7 linked regions of the Homo sapiens genome follow. The protein of the gene in region 1 interacts with the protein of each later gene in a biochemical or structural test. Each region holds a gene or a part of one and is shown in the gene's direction. Other genes may lie near its edges. The genes, in order: KCNV1, ARHGEF11, PALS2, GRID2IP, FRMPD4, FRMPD3 and GOPC.

The links.
Region 2: the proteins of KCNV1 (region 1) and ARHGEF11 interact in a test that uses a peptide from one of them, tested with the Homo sapiens proteins (one large-scale study listed by IntAct).
Region 3: the proteins of KCNV1 (region 1) and PALS2 interact in a test that uses a peptide from one of them, tested with the Homo sapiens proteins (one large-scale study listed by IntAct).
Region 4: the proteins of KCNV1 (region 1) and GRID2IP interact in a test that uses a peptide from one of them, tested with the Homo sapiens proteins (one large-scale study listed by IntAct).
Region 5: the proteins of KCNV1 (region 1) and FRMPD4 interact in a test that uses a peptide from one of them, tested with the Homo sapiens proteins (one large-scale study listed by IntAct).
Region 6: the proteins of KCNV1 (region 1) and FRMPD3 interact in a test that uses a peptide from one of them, tested with the Homo sapiens proteins (one large-scale study listed by IntAct).
Region 7: the proteins of KCNV1 (region 1) and GOPC interact in a test that uses a peptide from one of them, tested with the Homo sapiens proteins (one large-scale study listed by IntAct).

Annotation. Positions count from the first base shown.
Region 1 is NC_000008.11:109,965,772-109,969,271, reverse strand, and holds part of KCNV1 (potassium voltage-gated channel subfamily V member 1), read left to right. Parts: intron 1-672; coding exon 673-1,184; 3' UTR 1,185-3,500. UniProt on the Homo sapiens protein: Potassium channel subunit that does not form functional channels by itself. Modulates KCNB1 and KCNB2 channel activity by shifting the threshold for inactivation to more negative values and by slowing the rate of inactivation.
Region 2 is NC_000001.11:156,948,243-156,951,742, reverse strand, and holds part of ARHGEF11 (rho guanine nucleotide exchange factor 11), read left to right. Parts: intron 1-43; coding exon 44-170; intron 171-1,725; exon of another isoform or gene 1,726-3,117; coding exon of another isoform or gene 3,118-3,170; intron 3,171-3,223; coding exon of another isoform or gene 3,224-3,244; coding exon 3,245-3,424; intron 3,425-3,500. UniProt on the Homo sapiens protein: May play a role in the regulation of RhoA GTPase by guanine nucleotide-binding alpha-12 (GNA12) and alpha-13 (GNA13). Acts as guanine nucleotide exchange factor (GEF) for RhoA GTPase and may act as GTPase-activating protein (GAP) for GNA12 and GNA13.
Region 3 is NC_000007.14:24,674,452-24,677,951, forward strand, and holds part of PALS2 (protein PALS2), read left to right. Parts: intron 1-3,500.
Region 4 is NC_000007.14:6,496,278-6,499,461, reverse strand, and holds the end of GRID2IP (delphilin), read left to right. Parts: intron 1-1,233; coding exon 1,234-1,398; intron 1,399-1,616; coding exon 1,617-1,688; 3' UTR 1,689-2,684; downstream 2,685-3,184.
Region 5 is NC_000023.11:12,715,473-12,718,972, forward strand, and holds part of FRMPD4 (FERM and PDZ domain-containing protein 4), read left to right. Parts: intron 1-596; coding exon 597-1,661; intron 1,662-2,028; coding exon 2,029-3,318; intron 3,319-3,500. UniProt on the Homo sapiens protein: Positive regulator of dendritic spine morphogenesis and density. Required for the maintenance of excitatory synaptic transmission. Binds phosphatidylinositol 4,5-bisphosphate.
Region 6 is NC_000023.11:107,596,152-107,599,651, forward strand, and holds part of FRMPD3 (FERM and PDZ domain-containing protein 3), read left to right. Parts: intron 1-1,169; coding exon 1,170-1,991; intron 1,992-3,500.
Region 7 is NC_000006.12:117,568,012-117,571,511, reverse strand, and holds part of GOPC (Golgi-associated PDZ and coiled-coil motif-containing protein), read left to right. Parts: intron 1-556; coding exon 557-652; intron 653-1,653; exon of another isoform or gene 1,654-1,775; coding exon 1,776-1,940; intron 1,941-3,500.

The DNA of each region.
Region 1 (3,500 bases):
GAGTTCAGACCTCCTCCTGACATACTGCTGAGAATGTCCCCTGAATATACATGTGATGTTCTCATGTCAATTTTATCACCAATGCCTAACTTGCTTCTGCTGCTTCACTTTGTTGCTATGGTGCCCATTGTTTACTTTTTCTGGCTTTCCTGTAATCAGGTTCCTGATTGTCTTAAACTTTACAAGGAAGGTGAGAAAAACAGACACATAAAATACAAGACAACATAAAACTGGCATTTGAAACAAGTGCTAAAATGATGCATTGAAATGCAGGTGTGACCAAATATGCCCTCCACATGCAACACCGCAAAGGCCTCTTATTGTACAGACTAAAGTACAAAACTCCTATCATACCACCCCTGCCTGCCTTCAGTCTTACCTCTCGCCTTCTTTTTAATAGTAGAAGTTCAATAATTCTATAGGTGAATTAATGAATCTAATTATATTTCTCTCTAGCCTTCTCAACCTGGCCCCATCAACTAGACTGTGAACTTCCTGGCACAAGGATTATGATTTAATCAACTTTGTATCCCCAGAACATTGCCCAGTGCTGGGGACATTTAAGTGTGCAGTGCAGTTTGTGGGTGGCAGAGCAAGGAGGGAGAGGGGAGGGGAGGGAAGGAAGAGAGAGAAGAGGGATGCCAATGACTGACAGCATTTGTTCTGTTGCAGGATTACGCTCCCTTGGGATGACAATCACCCAGTGTTACGAAGAAGTCGGCCTACTGCTCCTATTTCTATCCGTGGGAATCTCTATATTTTCAACTGTAGAATACTTTGCTGAGCAAAGCATTCCTGACACAACCTTCACAAGTGTCCCTTGTGCATGGTGGTGGGCCACCACCTCTATGACTACTGTGGGATATGGGGACATTAGACCAGACACCACCACAGGCAAAATCGTGGCCTTCATGTGTATATTATCGGGAATTCTTGTCTTGGCCTTGCCTATTGCTATTATTAACGATCGCTTCTCTGCTTGCTACTTCACCTTGAAACTCAAGGAAGCAGCTGTTAGACAGCGTGAAGCCCTAAAGAAGCTTACCAAGAATATAGCCACTGACTCATATATCAGTGTTAACTTGAGAGATGTCTATGCCCGGAGTATCATGGAGATGCTGCGACTGAAAGGCAGAGAAAGAGCAAGTACTAGGAGCAGCGGGGGAGATGATTTCTGGTTTTGAATTAATTTTCAATTTATTTACAAAAGCTATGTACAATTAACTAAAATGATAAAGCAGTGATGTGGATTTCTGTATTCTGATGATGAGTCTCTTCAGAGTACTGCTCATCTTAATTAATTTTTGCTGATATATTGCTTCATCTACTAGAATATTTCACATCACCTATAACAACTGCACAGTGTTCTGACACATTTGAGTGTCCAAAATAGCCAATTAACACAACCAAATACAACTGGGCCAATATAAACATGTTTGAATTGTCAAATATAAAATAATGTTATTGCAATACATACAAAAAAGTTAAAGATTTTATGTATCACTAACATTAGAAGTTTTTTGCACCACTAATTTTTTAAAAATGGAAGGTAAACTGCATAGCCCAGAGAAAGATAAGTAAATATTTAAGAACATATTGAACAACTTTGCTATTTAAAGATATTATCCAAGTACATAAATTACTCCGTTCTCTATCAGTTAAAGCTATTGAATATAATACTTAGCTTTACAAGAGAAAACCCATATTTGATGGGCAGAGATTATATCCCTATCTTCTTTTTCATGTAAACCACTGGTCACAAATGAACTGATCTCTGTATCCCATTATTACTATAAGAGGTGGGAATCCCAAAACTGCTTAGATTGCAGTACATGAGTCTACACAAAGACTTCAACAATTGCACATCTTCATTCTCCCAACTGAGTGTAGTATGTGGAGCATAAAACAGCATATTTCTTAGTATTTCATGAATATCAGATGGTCTTTAAATGTCTCTTTATGGATGTATTGTTCACATTATGGCTTTAAAATAATGAATATGTAAAAGTGAGGTAGTGAACATCCTAAATTTCTACACTGGAATTACTAAATAATCTTATTTCATAAAATGGGAAATATATGTTAAATGACATCACTGGATGAACTTGAAGATCTTTTACTTGTTAACAAAAAAATACTATGGACAGCTTTCTGATTGTTGGGGTAAATAGCAAATGTTCAAACTTTGCAGGCATTTTGACATTCATCATAACAACACAATTCCTAGACATTGTATTATATAATTAAAGCCAAAACCTCTAAAGCTAAGAACTAGCTCATGATTCCCATTATTTTAGTAAATGAGATTCTACAACCTAAGAATAACAAGGAATGCATCACTTTAATACCTACATTTCCAATATAATAGAGCCCCCAAGGGGAAGAAAATTGGTTCTTGAGGAAAAAAAAATCTTATCACTTCATTTACAAAACACAGATAAGCATATTGAGTATATCTGTGGTATTAACATTTCATGGGGGTGAGATGTTAGGGAAAAAAGCCTAGAAGGCTCTTTGCCAGGGGTGAATGGTGATAAGAAATAAACATTGAGGACTGCTTTAATATATAGCTATAAGGTATTTCATAAACTCTATTTAAGACATCATATTATGCTATGCACTACCAAGAAAGAAAGATGCCAGTCAATTGTAAGATGCCATTAACTGTAAAATGCATCCGGATTTCAGATATGTAAAAATTTAAAATAAGCACCTTAAAATCAATGAAATATCGCATGTACTACCTCCTGTTTTCTGGTATGCATGGTTAAGCTCTGAAAACATTTTCACTGATGGCATGAGTTTTAGATTGTGTGCTAAAGTACTTTAATTCATTTAACTTGTTTCCACTTCTCCTAAATATTATAAAAGGTTCAGGAGATATGAATATTAGTAAGATAAATATTTTACTTCTTACACACATACATGGGTGCTAGATTGTGGCACAGGGCCACTAGTCATAGTATAAATCCCTTCCACAATCTGAAGGGAAAGTAGAAGTTAGACACAGAAGGTAAACTTACTCCAGCTTTTCTAGAACTTTCCCTAATAAGAATAGTTACTCTGATCCAGGACTATGCTCTGTATTCATCATGTATTATGCCATTTTATCCTCAAAATATCCCTATTATATAATTACTATTCTTATACTCTTCAAAATACATATTTTATATATTTATTAACTCAACAAATATTTATTAAGGATCTTTGGTGTTCTGGGGACTAGGGAGTCTTTCTTAAACAAGACTAGGTCCTGTTTTCTTGTAGTTAATATTCTGTTCAAAGGTGTGTGAGGAAAAGACAGCGAAACTGAAACATTAAAAGGTATAAACTTGCCTAAATTCACACAGGCTATAGATGGCAGAGCCAGCGCTGAATACCAATCTGCCTGACCCGGAAAACGACACTCCTAAAAGTCAAATTGCAGATTTCATTCTTCCTACACAAGCTCTGCATAGAAATTTATTTTTTAGGCAGGCAAGCCAACTTCTTGTGCATGG
Region 2 (3,500 bases), on another chromosome or scaffold:
TGAACAGCAAGCCTAGTGTCCTTCATTTTCTTTTTGCTTCTAGTCAAACCAGGCAATGTGAGGAACATCATTCAGCACTTTGAGAACAACCAGCAGTATGATGCCCCAGAACCTGGGACACAACGACTCTCGACCGGAAGCTTTCCTGAGGACCTGCTGGAGAGTGACAGGTAGCACTGGCTGGATGGGACTCGCCAGCTGCTCGAAGAGTGGGTCATGGGCAGGGCTGATGCTAGGGTTTAATTCCAGCTACTTGACCCCTCTCCACTAGCTTCTAAGGCTCCCTTTACAGAACTTCCTCCCCACCCCCAGTATCTTCAGGAGACACATTGTGTGCCAGTGAACAGGCCAGTGGAAGAGCAAGCAGATCCCCGACTTCCAGCCCAAGAACTACACACTTTTCAAATTCCCTTTGGATTTATCACCTGACTACTCAGTAGCCTTCATCCAAGATCGAGCTAGGTGATAAAAAGCAGCTAATCAGGAAACCCTAAGTGACAAGGATAAGGAAGACTATAGTGGGGGCAAGAGGGAGTCCTGGGGAAAAAAGACCCAGGCAGGCAAAAGAAAGTGGTTTCCTGTCTGTATGTGAAGAAGAGAGCCAGAGATGAGGTTCTGCTGGGTACTTTAAAGACAAATGATGTAACTATAGGCATCAGATGTCCACCTCAGCAAAGAGAGGCAAAGTGGATTGATTACAAATGGACTGTTTTTCCCTTTTCAAGAAGAAAAAGGGGAATTGAGACTGGCATCTCTCATATTCTTCTTTGGTCAGGTTCTAACTAGAGTCCCCATCTGGTATGAAAACTTGTTCTTGGACTTACTTGCTCTTGATTGTGGCATGACAGCAGTCAAGTCATGTCTAAAATTCTATAGCCAACACTTAAAAACCAACACCACCCTTAAAGGTGACTTAAACAGGTAGAGTAATATGGTCTTGTGTGGGGGGAAATAATGCTTGTGTACAGTCAAGCCTCAGAGCCACTGAGCTGGAGTATAGGCAGGCATGAAAGCAAGTCAGTATGCAGCAGCGTGGATATTCAAGCCATTTTGCCTTCGTTTGTTTGTTTGTTTGTTTTGGGGATTTTTTTTTCTTTTTTAAAGAGACAGGATCTTTCTCTGTCACCCAGGCTGGATTGCAGTGGTGCAATCATAGCTCACTGCAGCCTCAAACTCCTGGGTTCAAGGGATCCTCCCACCTCAGCCTCCTGAGTAACTAGGGATACAGGCATGCACCACTGCACCTGGCTAATTGATTTTTATTTTTATTTTTTTGAGACAGTCTCACTATGTTGCCCAGCTTGGTCTCGAACTCCCAACCACAGCAATCTTCCTGCCTCAGCCTCCCAAAGTGCTAGGATTATAGGCATGAGCCACTGCACCTGGCCTATTTTGCCTTTGAAATAACTAATTATCAAACCATAAGCCAACCTTTCCTGCTTGAATGCAGGTTACTCCTTTCTGTTTATATGAAGCCTTTTTTCAGCTTAACACGTGTTAAAAGATTTTGCTGCCATGAGAATTGACAGATTTACAGGAGACAAAGGTTAGATTTGTACTGGGGGAAGGTTGAGTTCTAACATTAATGGGTAAGTTAAATACGCAAATTATGTGATTCCTGTGGAAGCACATGATGTCGTAGATATATCAAATATTTTAAGATTATAAGACATCAACATTTTGAGAAAATATTTGAGACCATTTACAAAGTTGCATTCTTGGCATTGCTAGGTAAATTTGCCCTAAGACACTTGCTAGGATCCTAAAGCTACTCTAAGCAGAAGCCTTTGGGTTTGATGATTATCAACTCATTGGCAATCTCAGAAGAAATAGTATTAGCAATATGGTGGGTCAGAGATTGTTGTAGATACTCAACAGGTATAAGATGCCCCAGTTCTAGAAGGCAATACCCTAGGAATTTGGGGGCAAAGACAGATGATATGCCTCACTTCTTGGTGAGGAGCATTACTTACTTCTGGGTGCTTGAAGGAAGGTGCTTAGCTCTGCAGCCCCAGTAACTCCACTGGGTGTTTGTTGTGGTGGTACAGTGACCCATTAGGACACTGAAAAGTGTTCCGAGTTAGTCTGGGTTGGGATTGTTCTAACACAATTCTGGAGGGTGAATTCAATAAGGGATCAGTGGGCAGTATGTTTTCTAACCCTGCAGACAAAACCCTCAGGACCCTAGGAGATGAGCTCCATTTTGGATCATCTGGCAGTTTGGGCACAATGAATGGAGACCGAGACATTTAGCTCCTCATTGCAGCAACCTGCTGTGCTATTAAGAGCTCTGCAGACATTTCCAGGCCTCCTGTGGTCCTAGAAGCAGAGCAGGATGTAGATTACTAATAATATCAGAAAACCAGCCCAACAGGGCCACAGCATGGAGGTGGGGTGACCATCCTGGGGCAGCTAGGGGTCAGAGGTGCCAGCTGTCTTGGGCTGATGCACTGCAGGACTCGACACCGCAACACCCAGTCATCAGCATCTCATCAAACCCCAGAGACACTCAGTAGCCAAGCACGGCAGGCCAAGGAGCGGGTCCTGCCTATCAGTAAAAAGGCCCCTTTAAGCACAAGCCTGTCTGCTCTTGAGAGGAAATGGAATCTTAGGAACAGTATTGTTAAGATAAGAATGGAACTCATCCACATCACAACTGGAAGGCTAAGAATCCAGCAGCAGATAGAACTTTCTGACAGGCAGTGTGGAAAATCCTAAAATGAGCTGTGAATATAGTGACTCCACTTTCCTCTTAAGACCTCTTAAAAGAGGTTCGCCTCAGGCAGAGTTAAAGGTGGGAGCTGACCCGTTCCAAAGCAGAGGCAACGTGAACTGGCCACTAGGGGCAGGGAGCTGGGACCTTGTGTTCCCTGTTGAGGGACGATGATGTCTACCACCTTCTTGACAGAAGCATGGTGTCTCAGGCCTCTGGACACACTACAACTCAGAGTCTGTTAGCCCCAGATTTCATCTTCCTGTTAGGATCCCTTCCTAATAGCTCCAGAGGAAGATGACTGTCCATCCATCAGGCTAGGCTGGGGAGAGAGGAGGAGTTTGTAGAGCAGCAAAAATAGTCTGTCATTGAGAAGCTTCCACTGCCATCCAGCTGCTTTGGCCATGTTCAGGAGGAGAACCTGTGGCACGGAGGCATCTTTGAGATGGAGCCACAGGTAAGAGTTAGCCAGGATGTAAGCATGGCCCACTGACTTCCCAAGTCCCAAAGTCTTTTGTCCCTTCCCCCCAGTTCACGCTCAGAGATTCGCCTGGGCCGCTCTGAAAGCCTCAAGGGCCGGGAAGAGATGAAACGGTCTCGAAAGGCAGAGAACGTGCCCCGCTCTCGCAGTGATGTTGACATGGATGCTGCTGCGGAGGCTACTCGCCTGCACCAGTCAGCCTCGTCCTCTACCTCCAGCCTCTCCACCAGGTGGGCAGGGCTACAACGGCTGCACCCATGGACATCTCAGGGGTGGCGGCAAGGATAGAGGGTTGCTGAGAGTTGA
Region 3 (3,500 bases), on another chromosome or scaffold:
AATTATCAAGGGCTTAAAGCCCTCCACAGAACCTTTTCTTAGAATGAATGGGTTTAGTTCAACCATCATACATCTTCAGGGTAATGAACATGCTGCTGGACAACTGGCACTCTGGAAGAGCCTGGTCAGCTCTGTCTGTAACTGTGCTCTTCAACAGCACCATCTCCTCTCAAAGTATTTTCTTTCACTTGTGATTGCTTGTTTGATCCATTGGTTATTTGGGAGTATATTGCTTATTTTCCATATATTTTTGAATTTCTAAAATTTTCTGTTATAAAATTAAGGTGATTTAACTTTCTTTATATATTACAAAATGATCCTAAGATAAAATAGAAAAACATTGTTATTTTAGGGAGATGGGCTATGTTATGCATCCTGTTTTCAATTTAACATTGACATCTTGACATCTTGAGCTTAGTTAACAAATGAAGTATTACTTTGTTGATTGTGTCTTCATTATTTGAAGAGCAGCTAAAATTGAGAATTTTGCCTATCATAAAAAATTACTTCTAAAAAATCACATTATGTAGTTGCGCAGTATAGAAGTCTAAGGAATCAGTTGTAGTCAAACCTTCATGTTCTAATTTCTCTGTTCTAGAAATGGAAAGCAGTTTAAATATGTGGCAACGTAGATTGTTTTTTGAAGTGTTAGTAGAGAATAGGATTGTAGTTAAAATTCACTTGTAAACTAAAGAACATTTCTCTAAGAATTAAGATTCCCTCAGCATGGAGGTAGAGGTAATACATGTGCATATACATATTTATTTCAAGCAGCGCATTCCCCTATATGGTTTCACTGTAGGACTTCACCGAAAAAACATTAATTTTTAAAATTAATGTTCACAATGTTGAACCAAGTCCTATTATGCATTTATTTGGGGAGTTACAAGTTGCCTTAGAAGTTTTTTTATTTTTTTATTTTTTTAAGGTTTTTTTTTTTCCCCTCTTATTATTATACTTTTAAGTTTTAGGGTACATGTGCACAATGTGCAGGTTAGTTACATATGTATACATGTGCCATGGTGGTGTGCTGCACCCATTAACTCGTCATCTAGCATTAGGTATATCTCCCAGTGCTATCCCTCCCCCCTCCCCCCACCCCACAACAGTCCCCAGAGTGTGATGTTCCCCTTCCTGTGTCCATGTGTTCTCATTGTTCAGTTCCCACCTATGAGTGAGAATATGCGGTGTTTGGTTTTTTGTTCTTGCGATAGTTTACTGAGAATGATGATTTCCAATTTCATCCATGTCCCTACAAAGGACATGAACTCATCATTTTTTATGGCTGCATAGTATTCCATGGTGTATATGTGCCACATTTTCTTAATCCAGTCTATCATTGTTGGACATTTGGATTGGTTCCAAGTCTTTGCTATTATGAATAATGCCGCAATAAACATACGTGTGCATGTGTCTTTATAGTAGCATGATTTATAGTCCTTTGGGTATATACCCAGTAATGGGATGGCTGGGTCAAATGGTATTTCTAGTTCTAGATCCTTGAGGAATCGCCACACTGACTTCCAGAATGGTTGAACTAGTTTACAGTCCCACCAACAGTGTAAAAGTGTTCCTATTTCTCCACATCCTCTCCAGCACCTGTTGTTTCCTGACTTTTTAATGATTGCCATTCTAACTGGTGTGAGATGGTATCTCATTGTGGTTTTGATTTGCATTTCTCTGATGGCCAGTGATGGTGAGCATTTTTTCATGTGTTTTTTGGCTGCATAAGTGTCTGTCCATGTCCTTCGCCCACTTTTTGATGGGGTTGTTTGTTTTTTTCTTGTAAATTTGTTTGAGTTCATTGTAGATTCTGGATATTAGCCCTTTGTCAGATGAGTAGGTTGGGAAAATTTTCTCCCATTTTGTAGGTTGCCTGTTCACTCTGATGGTAGTTTCTTTTCCTGTGCAGAAGCTCTTTAGTTTAATTAGATCCCATTTGTCAATTTTGTCTTTTGTTGCCATTGCTTTTGGTGTTTTAGACATGAAGTGCTTGCCCATGCCTGTGTCCTGAATGGTAACGCCTAGGTTTTCTTCTAGGGTTTTTATGGTTTTAGGTCTAACGTTTAAGTCTTTAATCCATCTTGAATTGATTTTTGTATAAGGTGTAAGGAAGGGATCCAGTTTCAGCTTTCTATGTATGGCTAGCCAGTGGTCCCAGCACCATTTATTAAATAGGGAATCCTTTCCCCATTGCTTGTTTTTCTCAGGTTTGTCAAAGATCAGATAGTTGTAGATACGCGGCGTTATTTCTGAGGGCTCTGTTCTGTTCCATTGATCTGTATCTCTGTTTTGGTACCAGTCCCATGCTGTTTTGGTTACTGTAGCCTTGTAGTATAGTTTGAAGTCAGGTAGTGTGATGCCTCCAGCTTTGTTCTTTTGGCTTAGGATTGACTTGGTGATGCAGGCTCTCTTTTGGTTCCATATGAACTTTAAAGTAGTTTTTTCGAATTCTGTGAAGAAAGGCATTGGTAGCTTGATGGGGATGGCATTGAGTCTGTAAATTACCTTGGGCAGTATGGCCATTTTCACGATATTGATTCTTCCTACCCATGAGCATGGAATGTTCTTGCATTTGTTTGTATCCTCTTTTATTTCGTTGAGCAGTGGTTTGTAGTTCTCCTTGAAGAGGTCCTTCACATCCCTTGTAAGTTGGATTCCTAGGTATTTTATTCCTTTGAAGCAATTGTGAATGGGAGTTCACTCATGATTTGGCTCTCTGTCTGTTGTTGGTGTATAAGAATGCTTGTGATTTTTATGCATTGATTTTGTATCCTGAGACTTTGCTGAAGTTGCTTATCAGCTTAAGGAGATTTTGGGCTGAGACAATGGGGTTTTCTAGATATACAATCACGTCATCTGCAAACAGGGACAATTTGACTTCCTCTTTTCCTAATTGAATACCCTTTATTTCCTTCTCTTGCCTAATTGCCCTGGCCAGAACTTCCAACACTATGTTGAATAGGAGTGGTGAGAGAGGGCATCCCTGTCTTGTGCCAGTTTTCAAAGGGAATGCTTCCAGTTTTTGCCCATTCAGTATGATATTGGCTGTGGGTTTGTCATAGATAGCTCTTATTATTTTGAGATACGTCCCATCAATACCTAATTTATTGAGAGTTTTTAGCATGAAGGGCTGTTGAATTTTGTCAAAGGCCTTTTCTGCATCTATTGAGATAATCATGTGGTTTTTGTCTTTGGTTCTGTTTATATGCTGGATTACATTTATTGAGAAGTTTTATTATACACACCTTTGGTGACTAATTCCAGAAACCTTAAAGATCACACAGTTTTAAATATGAAAAGCCATCATAGCATCTTGAAGATTCTCAAAGATACTTTATAAATACTCTTCACAGTAGTCTAAGACGACCACTCTCAAGGTTGAGCCAGAAAACAAGGGGAAAACAGGAGTCCTATTATACATAATGATCTCATTTGACCCTTATTTTTGAGCATGAGTTTGAAGTTCATTTTGTTCTTATAAAAGTTTTCTATGTCTT
Region 4 (3,184 bases), on another chromosome or scaffold:
GAGACTCTGTCTCAAAATTAATTAATTAATTAATTAAAGGCAGCCTCTGCAAAGGAAATTGACCTGGCACATCAGACAGGCATAGGCCCAAATCCTGGCTCATTTCCTTACCTGCTGTGGGACTATGGGCAAGTCAGTTACCCTCTGTGAGCCCAGTTTTCTCATCAGGAAAAAGAGGGGTCATGAGAACCTCTACCACAGTGGTCATTAATTGATGTGACCCTGGTGGGTTCAACCGTGGCTCAGGCACCACAGTGCTTGCTGTGTGATCTTGGGCTAGTTGCTAAAGTCCTGTGTGCTTTAATTTGTTCACATGTAAAATAGAGATAATCTACCTCATAGAGGTGTTAAACGATGATTCAACAAGCTTGGAACAAAGCTCGGCACCATTTTAAGTGCTGAAAAAATGATAGCGATTCAGCCACTGAATCTTTTTGCAAGACTGACCATGTATCAGATGCTATTCTAAGCCCTGGAGGTGCAAGGAGGGAGCGAGCTTTCACTTAGGCAGTAGGAAATGAACTTATGAACAATTTCAGATCATGACAAATGCTCTAGAAAACAGAGTAAGGCCTAAGGCCAGGTGCAGTGGCTCACACCTGTAATCCCAGCACTTTGGGAGGCCAAAGTGGGAGGATCACTTGAGCCCAGGAGTTTGAGACCACCCTAGGCAACATACACCCCATCTCTATTTTAAAAATCAAAAAATTAGCTGGGTATGGTGGTGTAAACCTCTGGTCCCAGCTGCTCGGGAGGCTGAGGTGGGAGGATCACTTGAGCCTGGGAGGTAGAGGCTGGAATGATCTGTGAGCTGTGATCACACCACTGCACTCCAGGCTGAGCGACAGAATAAGACCCTGTCTCAAAAAAAAAAAAAAAAAAAAAAAAAGTAAGGCCTAGAGAGTGACAGAGGGGCCTACTGTAAATGAGTGGTTGGGGAAGAAGGTGGCAGTGGAAGCCTCTGATCAGAGACCCAGGGCCTGGCCCTGCAGAGAGAACAGGGGTGAATGGCCTGAGGCTGCACTGGCTGTGGCCAGTTCCAGGATGAGTTCAGTGGCCAGTGGGACTAGAGTCCCTGAACAGGGCCTGGTTCCCTGTTGGACACAGGGCCTGGCCCTTGGAAGGACTCAGGCCAACCGGGAATAGGGCTGCTAGGGACCTGTCTGTCGGGCCACCACCTGAGACCCTGGGGGCACAAGCGGGCTGGCTGTTTCCTTAACTGAGGCCTGTCAGTCCTTCCTGGAGACGGCCCAGCCAGCACTTCGGGCGCTCGACGGGCTGCAGCGCGAGGCCATGGAGGAGCTGGGCAAGGCGCTGGCCTTCTTTGGGGAGGATTCCAAGGCCACCACCTCTGAGGCTTTCTTCGGCATCTTTGCAGAGTTCATGAGCAAATTCGAGGTGAGCCTCGCTGGAGCCCTGAGGGGCCCTTTTGGAGAGGTGGGGGCCAGAGGCCAAATGAAGGGATCCTCCATGAAGCCAGGGCTGGGAAAGGGGCTCCAGTGAGCGACATGTCCCCCTAACCCCCTGATGGGCTGTCTAGTGTGGGAAGAGACAGGGAAGGCGTCACAGGTTCCTGGGACCACTGACCACCCTACCTCTGTGTTCCCCCTCCCCAGCGAGCGCTGAGTGACCTGCAGGCCGGGGAGGGCCTGCGCAGCTCCGGGATGGTTTCACCCCTGGCCTGGTGACAGTGGCCACACCGCGTCCTCTGCGGCCTGAGCAGGGAGATGGAGGCCGAGAGGGCAGCCCAGACACTGCCGAGGTCCGGGGCCACTGTGCCCCGGGCTCTGAGCACACCGCCAGCCTCTCCTGCAGCTACCTCAGCCGCCGAGCTGTGGTCGGGCCCTCCTCTGCCAGCCCTTGTTCCTACCCCCAGGCCCAGAGCCAGATGCTGTAGGAGCAGGTGCTGAGTGTGCCTGCACATGGAGGACCGTGCTCTGTCGGCTTCTTGGGCCCACTTCCCACTTCGCTCCCAGGCTGTCAGGGGGGCCTGGAGGGTGGATTACAAAGTGGCCACATTCCTGGGACATGTGGACCTTTTTTCTGATCCTGCTCCTAGTGGGTCCCTGTGAGGGGGCCGACACCCTTGAGCACGACCCTGCAGGCAGGCGCGAGACGCGAGAGGGCAGAAAGCCGGATGTAGAGGGGCCCTGGGGATGTGCACGCCCAGCCTGGGCCTTGGAAGCTGGCTTCAGGGACACAGGAAGAGAGAAGCCTGGGAGAGACGCAGGGAAGGAAGGACTGGAGAAGGAAGACCCCCTATGTCAGACTGCGGAATTGAGGTTTCATGCAGTGGACAAACCCAAACCTGTGTAGAGGTGGCCCAATTGGAAGTGGGGAGCCTGGGAGTGGAATAGGTGTGGTCAAGGTAGAGCAGACAGAATGGGGAGGTGTTGAGGCAGGAGGTGAGCAGGATCTGGTGGCCAACTGCCAGACTTCTCACCTGGACGGATGGTGATGTTCCCTGGAGCAAGTCATGAGACCGGGGCAGGTGTGGGGGCAGATGACACAATCTGGGATGTGTTTGGGACCCAAATGGTCATTTTACATGTGCCTAGGCATATAGCAGGAGTTACCTGGATACCAGGAGCAGGAGCAGGTGGCGTGGTGGGCAGGGAGGGAGGGTGTGTGAACTGTTTCACCTTTTTTAAAATTCTCTGATTGACAGATCCTTGGATCAGACAGCTTCCCTCGTTGCACTTTTTTTTTTTTTTTTTTTTGGAAAAGTCTGAAATGGGCTTTAATCCTGTCTCATGGATTCTTTTTCTCCCACTGCAATCAAATGGCTTACATTGCACCTGGGCAGTACTGGGAACCTGTTCAGTTCTTCCCAGTCTCCCCTAGGCCCCTCTTGGAAGCCACCTTTGTTTTTTTGTTCCTTGCACACAAGCACCATACAAAAACATCAAAACCAAAATATATACTGCAAGGGGGATGTGGCTAGTGGGGTACATTTCACCCTAGCAGCTCAAGCAGAATTGTTTCCAAAAGTTCCCAGTGCCTGTGTCTCTGGGAAACATGTCAGGAGGTCAGTTAAAACCTCTGCAGGCAGGGCGTGGGGGCTCACGCCTGTAATTCCAACACTTCGGGAGGCTGAGGCAGGTGGATCACCTGAGGCCAGAAGTTCAAGACCAGCCTGGCCAACATAGTGAAGCCATATCTCTACTAAAAATACACAAAATTA
Region 5 (3,500 bases), on another chromosome or scaffold:
ACATCCACTAGGATATCAAAAGACTGAAGATAGAAGTTTTGTACTATCATTACAACATTTATCTTAATTTCCTAAAAACTATGGTAAAACTCTGACGATCCTTGACCGTCTCTGAATTCAATGAGGAAAACACTCAATATCTTCCTCCATGAAGTAGGGAATATTAAATCTCACCTTACAAGGAAAAGAACAATTAATGTTCTGGAATAACGGCCTATTGAAATCTCACCTTTAAGGGTAAAAGACATGTTGTATATTTACATTTGTAGATATGAATGAAGCCTTTTAATAATAGAACCAAGGGTCAGATGGAATTAAGCTATACTTCCCTACCCCCAGATGGTATTACATTTTATCAAATAGCAATTACAGTTTATGCAGTATCAATTTTGTTAAGGTCGGTTCTCCTAACCCAAGGAATTCTTACACCTGAAGCCTAAATCAATAAGTACTATATTTGGGTAGTTGAAAAACTGTATTTACATAAGTGATGCTACAAGCCATTAAGTTAAAAAACAGAGACGAGCCTCCCACCCCCGCCCCACCCAAAACCAGACAGTACAGTAATGTGTCTTTGCGTGATTCTTTCTCTTTAGGACCTGAAAACAAGGGGAAGCATAACCTCCTTGGCCCAGATTGGAACTGTATACCCCAAATGACCACCTTTATTGGCGAAGGGGAACAAGAAGCCCAGATAACATACATAGATTCAAAGCAGAAGACGGTGGAGATCACAGACAGCACCATGTGTCCAAAAGAGCACCGGCACTTGTACATAGACAATGCCTATAGTTCAGATGGACTTAACCAGCAGCTGAGCCAGCCCGGGGAGGCCCCCTGTGAGGCAGACTACAGAAGTCTAGCTCAGCGGTCCCTATTGACCCTCTCAGGACCAGAAACTCTGAAGAAAGCACAGGAATCTCCGAGAGGAGCTAAAGTGTCCTTTATTTTTGGAGACTTCGCCTTGGATGATGGTATTAGTCCCCCAACCCTTGGCTATGAAACGCTACTAGATGAGGGTCCTGAAATGCTGGAGAAGCAGAGAAATCTCTACATTGGCAGTGCCAATGACATGAAGGGCCTGGATCTCACTCCAGAGGCAGAGGGCATCCAGTTTGTGGAAAATTCTGTTTATGCAAACATAGGCGATGTGAAGAGCTTCCAGGCCGCGGAGGGGATCGAGGAACCCCTCTTGCATGACATCTGTTATGCAGAAAACACTGATGACGCGGAGGACGAGGACGAGGTGAGCTGCGAGGAGGACCTCGTGGTGGGGGAGATGAACCAGCCGGCCATCCTCAACCTGTCTGGGTCAAGCGATGACATCATTGACCTCACATCCCTGCCCCCTCCAGAAGGTGATGACAATGAGGATGACTTCCTGTTGCGTTCCTTGAACATGGCCATTGCCGCACCCCCACCTGGCTTTAGAGACAGTTCAGATGAAGAGGACTCTCAGAGCCAGGCAGCTTCCTTCCCCGAGGACAAGGAGAAAGGCAGCAGCCTGCAAAATGATGAGATCCCCGTGTCCCTCATTGACGCTGTGCCCACCAGCGCCGAAGGCAAGTGTGAGAAGGGACTGGATAATGCCGTCGTCTCCACGCTGGGAGCTCTAGAGGCTCTATCCGTGTCAGAAGAACAGCAGACCAGTGACAATTCAGGTTCTTTCACAATTGTTACATTCATTCACTGATAACCATATCATTCCATCCTTCCAAGCCATTTGCCCCTGGAGTCCTGTTACGTGGTGTTCTCCATTTCACACATGTCCCATTTCATAAATGTGCTGAAACTGCCATCATGGGTTTTTTTGTGTGTATGTGATTTCCTTTGTTATTTTTTTTTAAAAACATAAGGCACATCTCCCCCCACCCCCATTTCTGGAAAAACTGCAATAAACTCAGAGTCCTTACTGAAAAGGGAAAAACTTGGTATTTTGTTTTAGTAATAACGAGTCCCATTTTCTTACATGTCTCCAAGTGCCTCTGATGCATCCATTAATCAGTTCTTGTTTTTTACGGCATGCAGGTGTAGCCATCTTGCGGGCTTATAGTCCTGAGTCTTCGTCAGACTCGGGCAATGAAACTAACTCTTCTGAAATGACTGAGAGTTCTGAACTGGCCACAGCACAAAAACAGTCAGAAAACCTCTCCCGCATGTTCTTGGCCACTCACGAAGGCTACCACCCCCTTGCAGAAGAGCAGACCGAGTTCCCGGCCTCCAAGACCCCCGCTGGGGGCTTGCCTCCAAAGTCCTCGCACGCCCTGGCTGCTAGGCCAGCAACCGACCTCCCGCCCAAAGTTGTGCCTTCCAAGCAGTTACTTCACTCAGACCACATGGAGATGGAGCCTGAAACTATGGAGACTAAGTCGGTCACTGACTATTTTAGCAAACTGCACATGGGGTCGGTGGCATACTCCTGCACTAGCAAAAGGAAAAGCAAGCTGGCCGATGGTGAGGGGAAGGCACCCCCTAATGGGAACACAACAGGAAAAAAACAGCAGGGGACCAAAACGGCAGAGATGGAGGAGGAGGCCAGTGGTAAATTTGGTACTGTGTCTTCACGAGACAGTCAACACCTGAGCACTTTTAATCTGGAGAGAACTGCCTTTCGCAAGGACAGTCAAAGATGGTATGTGGCCACTGAAGGTGGGATGGCTGAAAAAAGTGGATTAGAAGCAGCAACAGGGAAAACCTTTCCAAGAGCTTCTGGTCTTGGGGCAAGGGAGGCCGAAGGGAAGGAAGAAGGAGCTCCTGATGGAGAAACCAGTGATGGCTCAGGACTTGGTCAAGGGGACCGCTTCTTAACTGACGTGACCTGTGCATCTTCAGCCAAAGACTTAGATAACCCAGAGGACGCTGACTCGTCCACCTGCGACCATCCTTCCAAGCTTCCTGAGGCTGATGAGAGTGTGGCCCGCCTTTGTGACTACCACTTGGCCAAGCGGATGTCATCACTGCAAAGCGAGGGCCATTTTTCTCTGCAGAGCTCCCAAGGCTCTTCAGTGGATGCAGGCTGTGGCACAGGCAGCAGTGGCAGTGCCTGTGCCACACCCGTGGAGTCGCCGCTCTGCCCCTCCCTGGGGAAGCACTTGATTCCTGACGCTTCTGGGAAAGGCGTGAATTACATTCCTTCAGAGGAGAGAGCCCCTGGGCTTCCCAACCACGGAGCCACCTTTAAGGAACTGCACCCACAGACAGAAGGGATGTGTCCACGGATGACAGTGCCTGCTCTGCACACAGCCATTAACACCGAACCCCTGTTTGGCACATTGAGAGATGGATGCCATCGGCTCCCCAAGATTAAGGAAACCACAGGTACAGCAATGATGGATTTAGCACTTTGTATGACATGCCAAGAGCATGTAAACCATATTTACAACAAACTTAAAAACGTAATGTCTGGAAGAAAAGTAAAAGGTAGAATTTTAAAAGGCCACAGAACTGTAAAGTACCAATCATTGATCCCCTGGTATTTAATAAATACTAAAGATTATAAA
Region 6 (3,500 bases), on another chromosome or scaffold:
AGTTTGAGTGGCATTTTGAAGGCTTGTTTTCCAGCATCTTGACCACCATGATGAGTTATAAGGGTAATGGCTAAAAACATGGGTTTTGAAGTCTTTCAGACCTAGGCGGAAATCCAGTCTACCACTTGGTCTATGTAACCTTAGGTGAGTCAGTTTCTTTATCCTTAAAATGTGAATAATGATAATAACTACCTCATTGGGTTGTTATGAAGAATAAGTAGGATCATGTATATTAGGACCTTAGCCTAAGTTAGTGCTTGTTTGTTATCTGTCTGTCTGCTGTCCGAGTATATTCTCACAGATAAAATGGGGAAGAGCTCCAAAAACAGTGAGAGAAGGTATTCACAGATAAAGCATTTGCTATAGATAATTCTCAGATGCACACACCTACCATCATTAAGAGCGGTTGACGAGAGCATTTGCCATATGTATGTGTAGCAGGTAGGGCTGGCCCTGCATGAATGCAGAAAAGAATAAAATTTGAAGAATTATAAGAATGCTTCCCCTGCCCTCCTCCCACATATGCACATCCCAGCATATCTCCCATATACTTTACACATTCAGACCCCGGAATTCTAATATAGAGCCTTATTCTTTTAGGATCCCTCCATCAACAGGCCTCTTTGAAATGCAAACTCTTCGGCATTATATGTAGCCTGTTTAACAGGTTCTGACTAAAGCATTAGTAACTTGTCAGATTTATTTCCTTCTGCTAGAAGAGATTCAAGATAACAAGAACAACAGAGCACTGGTGGAAAAGCTCTGAAAAGGGGTGGGGACAGGGGTAGGAACAGTTCCAAGTGGGACATACGTTTACAGCTGACTTTCAGATAGAGGGTATCCATGTAAGAGTCCAGCTGTGCCCAGATACCAGGCCCTAAACCAGGGTGTTCACCCCGACCCCTACCATACCCCATGCCTTTTCCCATTTCAGAGGTGATGGGGCTATTAGCAGCTCAGGTTATTAGACTCTATTCACTCTACTTTCAGGGTCAGCAGTAACATAGCTCATCAACTTCCCTACCTCTAATCTTTGGCAGCCAGGTAATGCTTTGTCTTGGGACCTGCCACTTGATTGTGCTACAGAGACATGGGCCAGAGACAACAAGGGAGCTCATTCACAATCCTTGGCACCAGGGCTCATCTGTTGATTCTCTTTCTGGGTTTAGATTACATGCACAGCGCCCACCGCCCTGTCACTGGGGGCCACCTGGGGAAAAAGGAGAGTAGTTATGTGGGCAGCGTGGGCACCAGCCCCAGGAAATCGAGCCGCTGCACGCCCCCACCTGCCGACTCTGAGCTTGTCAGCTTCTGCTACCTCCATATGCGGGAACAAAGGAAGGAGCAGGAAAGCCGGACAGATGTCAACGAGAACCTAATCTTCTTTGAGGAGACCAGGCCCCGAACCAAGTCTGACCCCACATCCAAAAGCTCTGGCCAAGGTTATGAGGTAGTCCCTGATGACTTTGATGCAGCTAGCCTAGACCACGAGCCTTGTGCCAGCAGGGCCCGGTCCTACACCTTGGACAATTCCCTTGGGGCTGAAGCCCTGAATTTCTACTGTGACTCTTGCAAAGCCAAACTTCAGGAGCAGCTGGGCCCTCGCAAAGGTGGGAAGCCTGGCTCCTCTCGTGACAATATAGTAGATTTGATGTCCCTCCCACCACCTGGGAGTGAGGAGGAGGAGGAGGAGGAAGATGAGACAACTTCTCTGTTGCCAGCCATTGCTGCCCCACCCCCTGGTTTCCGAGACAACAGCTCTGATGAGGATGACCCCAAGCGCCGGGCTGTCCAGAGCCAGGAACAAGGACGCCACCTGCGTGGGCTTCTGTACGATGAGATTCCAGTGACATTGATTGACAGTGTGCAGACCCGGACAGTTCGAGATCATGCCCAGGAGCTAGATGATGCCCTGGTGTCCACTCTGCAGGCTCTAGAAGCCCTGGCTGCATCCGAGGATGGACCACACCCACCACCCCCACAGACTGCAGGTAATGACCGATTCCTTCTCCCTCTTTCCACCCCCTTCTCTTGTCCAACAAGGGCCAGTAGGTAACATTGTGTCTTCCCAAATAGGTGTCAGAGTCACTGAGGTATGTCAGGGCAGTGGATGTACCAAAGGTTCTTTAGATAGGGTCAGAGGAGCAATGATGTTACAGCAGGGAGCAGCTGCTCAGCTCTAGCTAGAGTTCTGGCTCTCGTCATTGCATCTCTTTGGAAATGCCTTACAGATAGATCCCAGGGATTGGGGTCATGACAGCTATGGATGCAGGCCAGGATAGAGGATCAGAGAAAAACTGTGAGAGATGTAGAAGACAGGTGAAGAACAGAACATCCAGCATGCACATGATTGAAAGAAAAGGAAAACGACCAACTCACTACCTAGTGACCTGGGACCAGGGGAGCCAAGGGCCATCACTGCTCATGGCTGAGGTCTTTATCCTGCCTAAGAACATGGGCTCTGAATCAGATGCACCGAAGTCCTGGTTTCTTCAATCATTGTCAGTGTAACCTTTGGCAAGGCACTTACTCTCTCTGAACCTCATTCCATCATCTTAAATGGGTTTTATAAAAGTAGTTCTATCACATGGGGTTGTCACAAGGATTGAATGAGATCATTCATGCAAAGCATGTAAGCACTGCCTAGCACACAGTAAGGCCTCAGTAAGTGGTAGCTATTGTAACTAAGTATTAGTTCACAGGAAAACCGTACAACATGCATGCTGTTCCCTGTTATAAACACATGTATGTCCATCTTGTAGACAAACACATGTCAGACACATACCCATAGTCACACATATGTCCCTCCATATACATACACCTTAAAAAAAGAGAAGAGAGCTGGGCGTGGTGGCTCACACCTGTAATCCCAGCACTTTTGGAGGCCGAGGTGGGCAGATTACTTGAGGTCAGGAGTTCGAGATCAGCCTGGCCAACATGGTGAAAACCTGTCTCTACTAAAAATACAAAAATTAACTGGGTGGGCTGGTGCACACCTGTAGTCTCAGCTACTCAGGAGGCTGAGGCAGGAGAATCGCTTGAACCTGAGAGGCAGAGGTCGCAGTGAGCCGATACTGCACCACTGCACTCCAGCCTGGGTGACAGAGTGAGACTCTAAAAAAAAAAAAGAAGAAAAAAGAAAGAGAAGAGGTAAATGACACAGCAACAGAAAAGGAATAGGGAGGAATAGGGACCACGAGGGATTGGGGTCAGAGAGAGCCTGCCTTTTCCATGTGTGAGGACACCCTTGACATTGGACAACCCCCATGTATTTGGCCCCCAGGGCTGGCATTTCTCTTTGCTTAGAGTCTGGAGAGAGTGCTAGTTGCTCCCAGGCTTGAGTCCCACGTGGCTGCTGGAGAGAGGACAAGCTCAGCTAAATGGCCTCAGCTGCAATGACTGTAGGCGGGCCTGGCCAGATGAGGAGGGATAGAGAGAGACCTCTCTTTGCCAGCCCCTCTTTAGGACAATTAACAAAAATTTCCTAGCTGTTGAATCTA
Region 7 (3,500 bases), on another chromosome or scaffold:
AAGAGGCTTGTGATTCATTTATCTGCTGAGTAGGAAAACAGCTTAGTAGAGACAGAAAGAGTAAGGGTACCAGAGAAAAGATTATTAGTGGATCAAGGCCCTTTATTTAAGAGGTAGACTCCAGAGCACCAAGGAATGTATAAGTAATTAATGGTCCAATTGGAAATTTGTTTTTCAACTCTACAACTCAGCTAAAATGAATGTATATCTTAAAGATATCCAGTGAAGATAGACACTTTTATTTTTTGAGGATATTTGTTCCTCAATTAATTCCTGGAAATCATTTCTTTTATAATGCCCTACAATTTAAAAAGAGATGTATCAATATTTTAAACATTATTGGCAAAAGGGTGAGAATATCATCTATAAATTTTGCATCAACAGAATAGCTATTTTCATTTTTCCATTTTATCTGTTACTTTCTTAACCCTATACTGTTTATCCATTCCAGGAAGTTAATACAGATTTCTAAAAGCAAGTTATATAGTATGAGTTTACTCTATTTGGTATGCTATTTAAATGATACTACTTTTTCTTCTTTTTTCCTCCCAATAAGGATCAAGATTCCCTAAAGAAAAGCCAAGGTGTTGGTCCAATTAGAAAAGTTCTCCTCCTTAAGGAAGATCATGAAGGCCTTGGCATTTCAATTACAGTAAGAAGTAGTACTTCCAGTATCATTTTCTACAGTTATCTAGTATAATCATGCTCCTTTGTTGGACATCACTGGGGAACAGAATATTCTGGATATATTTTTTAAATAACTAAAATTTATCCCCATGGGGATAAATGTTTGCTTTTGTGTAAATATTTTTTTAAGAAATAAATATTCCTAGCAACTATTAAGTGTACCTTTAGTAAGCATAGTTTAACATTTTTATTATGATTCACTTAATAGTTCTGTGCCATATACTGTGATGCCTCTAGGAGCCCTTGGGAATAGACGTGGCTGTTTTCTTCTATGTTAAATGGCTTCAGATTGTATTGTTCTCTCTCGGAGTACGTGTATCTTTCTCTTGCCTCATTTATTAGCTGTCAGATTTCACTGGCTCTTGGGTCCAAATGTTATATATTCTTTTTTTTAAATTCGATGCCTTTAGGAGTCATTTTGTTGTCATCTCAGTGCTTTAATGAATAAGGTGGCTTTAATTTTCATTTGGTAATACTTAGGCACTGAGCAAGATCATTTGTTTTTTTAGTATTGCTTAATGTAGAAATGTTTCTTATAATAAAAAGCTCATCTAATCTATATTTCTTGAATACTTACCTTTTTTTTTTTTATGTGCTGCCTTCAAAGAGCATACATTTTAGCAGGACAAATAAGACACACACACACACCCCTACACACACGCAACAATGATATAAGCTAGAGAGTGATAGGTACCAAATACTGCATTTTTTCAATTCTACATTGCATATATTTTCATATTTTAACTTCTCTGAAATTGAAATTTATCTTATAATCTTAAAATTATTTTTGTGGCACCTAAAATAATTGGTCTTGTCATTCGTAGTGATTTAGACTTGATAAAATGTAATGGTGCTATGGAGTACTAACACATAAGTTTTTTTTAATTTAAGAATTTAGCCAATTTCTGTTCAATACTCTGATAATTTTTACCATTACTTAAGTAGCAAATAAAATTTTACCCAGCATTTATAGAGACAGCATAGGTGTTTAATGAAATATATTTTTAAGAAAATATTTTATCTCTAGATTAATCGGTAACTGTACCTTACAAAGAGTACTTTAATTTACTGCCCTTTGTTGTTGTTAGGGTGGGAAAGAACATGGTGTTCCAATCCTCATCTCTGAGATCCATCCGGGGCAACCTGCTGATAGATGCGGAGGGCTGCACGTTGGGGATGCTATTTTGGCAGTCAACGGAGTTAACCTAAGGGACACAAAGCATAAAGAAGCTGTAACTATTCTTTCTCAGCAGGTAAATTCCCTTCATGTAATTAGAACTGGATCTATCAATTGGTTATGAATCTATTGAACACTGTATACTTCCCTACGAAGTTTCTAAAGTAGTAAAGTGTTTACACATAGTTCTTGTTTCCTTTGATTTAATGCTTTTATAGCTGACATTCAGTCAGATTTACTGAAAATGGACCATTCCATTTTGTTTACTTCATAACTTTGAGCAAGTTACTTAAGTCCTCTGTCCCTCAGTGTCCTCACCTGTGTGGGAGGGATTGAAAGAAAGCTGTGAGGATTAAGTATGTTAATACATATAAAGTACTCAGAACAGGACCTGAGACTGAAAAAACAACATCCTTAATGCCTAGAACACTATATATAAGGTATTACAGAAAAGACAGTGCTAGAAGTAGATTGATTTTAGTCATGGAATATTAAAATTGAAATCACACATAGAAACTATCTAGCCCAACTCTCTTAAAATGAGTAAACTAAAGTTCTTAGCGATGAAAGGATTTACTCAAAGTTGCCAAGCAAATAAATTATAGAATTGAGATTCATACTCAGGAGTCATATTTGTCATACAGTTGTACTTAAAATGTTGTTTTATTTTATTTCTTTCAAGAATAGAGTTGAGGGAATTAGAGGCATTGGTAGTACATTGAGATGTTTCTTGGATTATCAGTGTGGTATGCCTCTGTAGAATTGCATCTCAGAGTTGAAAGTGAATATTGTTCATTGGTTCAATTCTATATGATGCATAAATCTTTGCAACATCACTACTTCAATAATTACATTACAGGGAAGACTTGCTGATATCAACCAGTCCATTCCATTGTAATACAGTACTGATTTTTAGAAAGCTTTTTCTCATATTAAGCCTGAAATCTGTGTCTCCATGACAGCTACTCACAGATCTAATTCTGTCATCTAAAACTTTGCTGAAGACCACTGCATCATCTGTCTCTTTCTGCAAAATGGTATTTTTAAAGCATTAGCTGACAAGAGAGATCTAAGAATGCTACGCTATTCTCTTAAGTTAGTGTTTTATCAATCCATCTTGACTGTCATCCAGTAGCAAAAGAGTGGGATAACTGGTGAAGGAGCTATCAATGGGCAGCCATAAGTTTTAAGGAAATGCTAACTAAGCACATATTAAAATTCTGAGGTATAACCTTAAACTGCTGGGAAAGAAGAGCACCAAAGAGACTAACTTAGTGAGTAGCAGTCAAAAATGCCGTGTTTTCTTTTGAGCAAAGGCAAGCCATAGTTTTCAGAATTGCCAACACCACACTTATATGTAGTGGTTGGAGTCTCTTATTAAATGACAATTATAGCTTGGAAATTTTTCTTTTAACATAAAACGATCTGTAACATTTTTTTCTTTTTTGGAGCCAGGATCTCACTTTGTCACCCAGGCTGGAGTGCAGTGGCACAATTACGGACCACTGCAGCCTCAACCTCCCAGGCTCAAACAGATCCTCCGACCTCAGCCCCCTGAGTAGCTAAGACTACAGATGCCTGCCACCATGGCCAGCTAATTTTTTTTTTTTTTTTTTTTTTTGTAGAGATGGGTTTT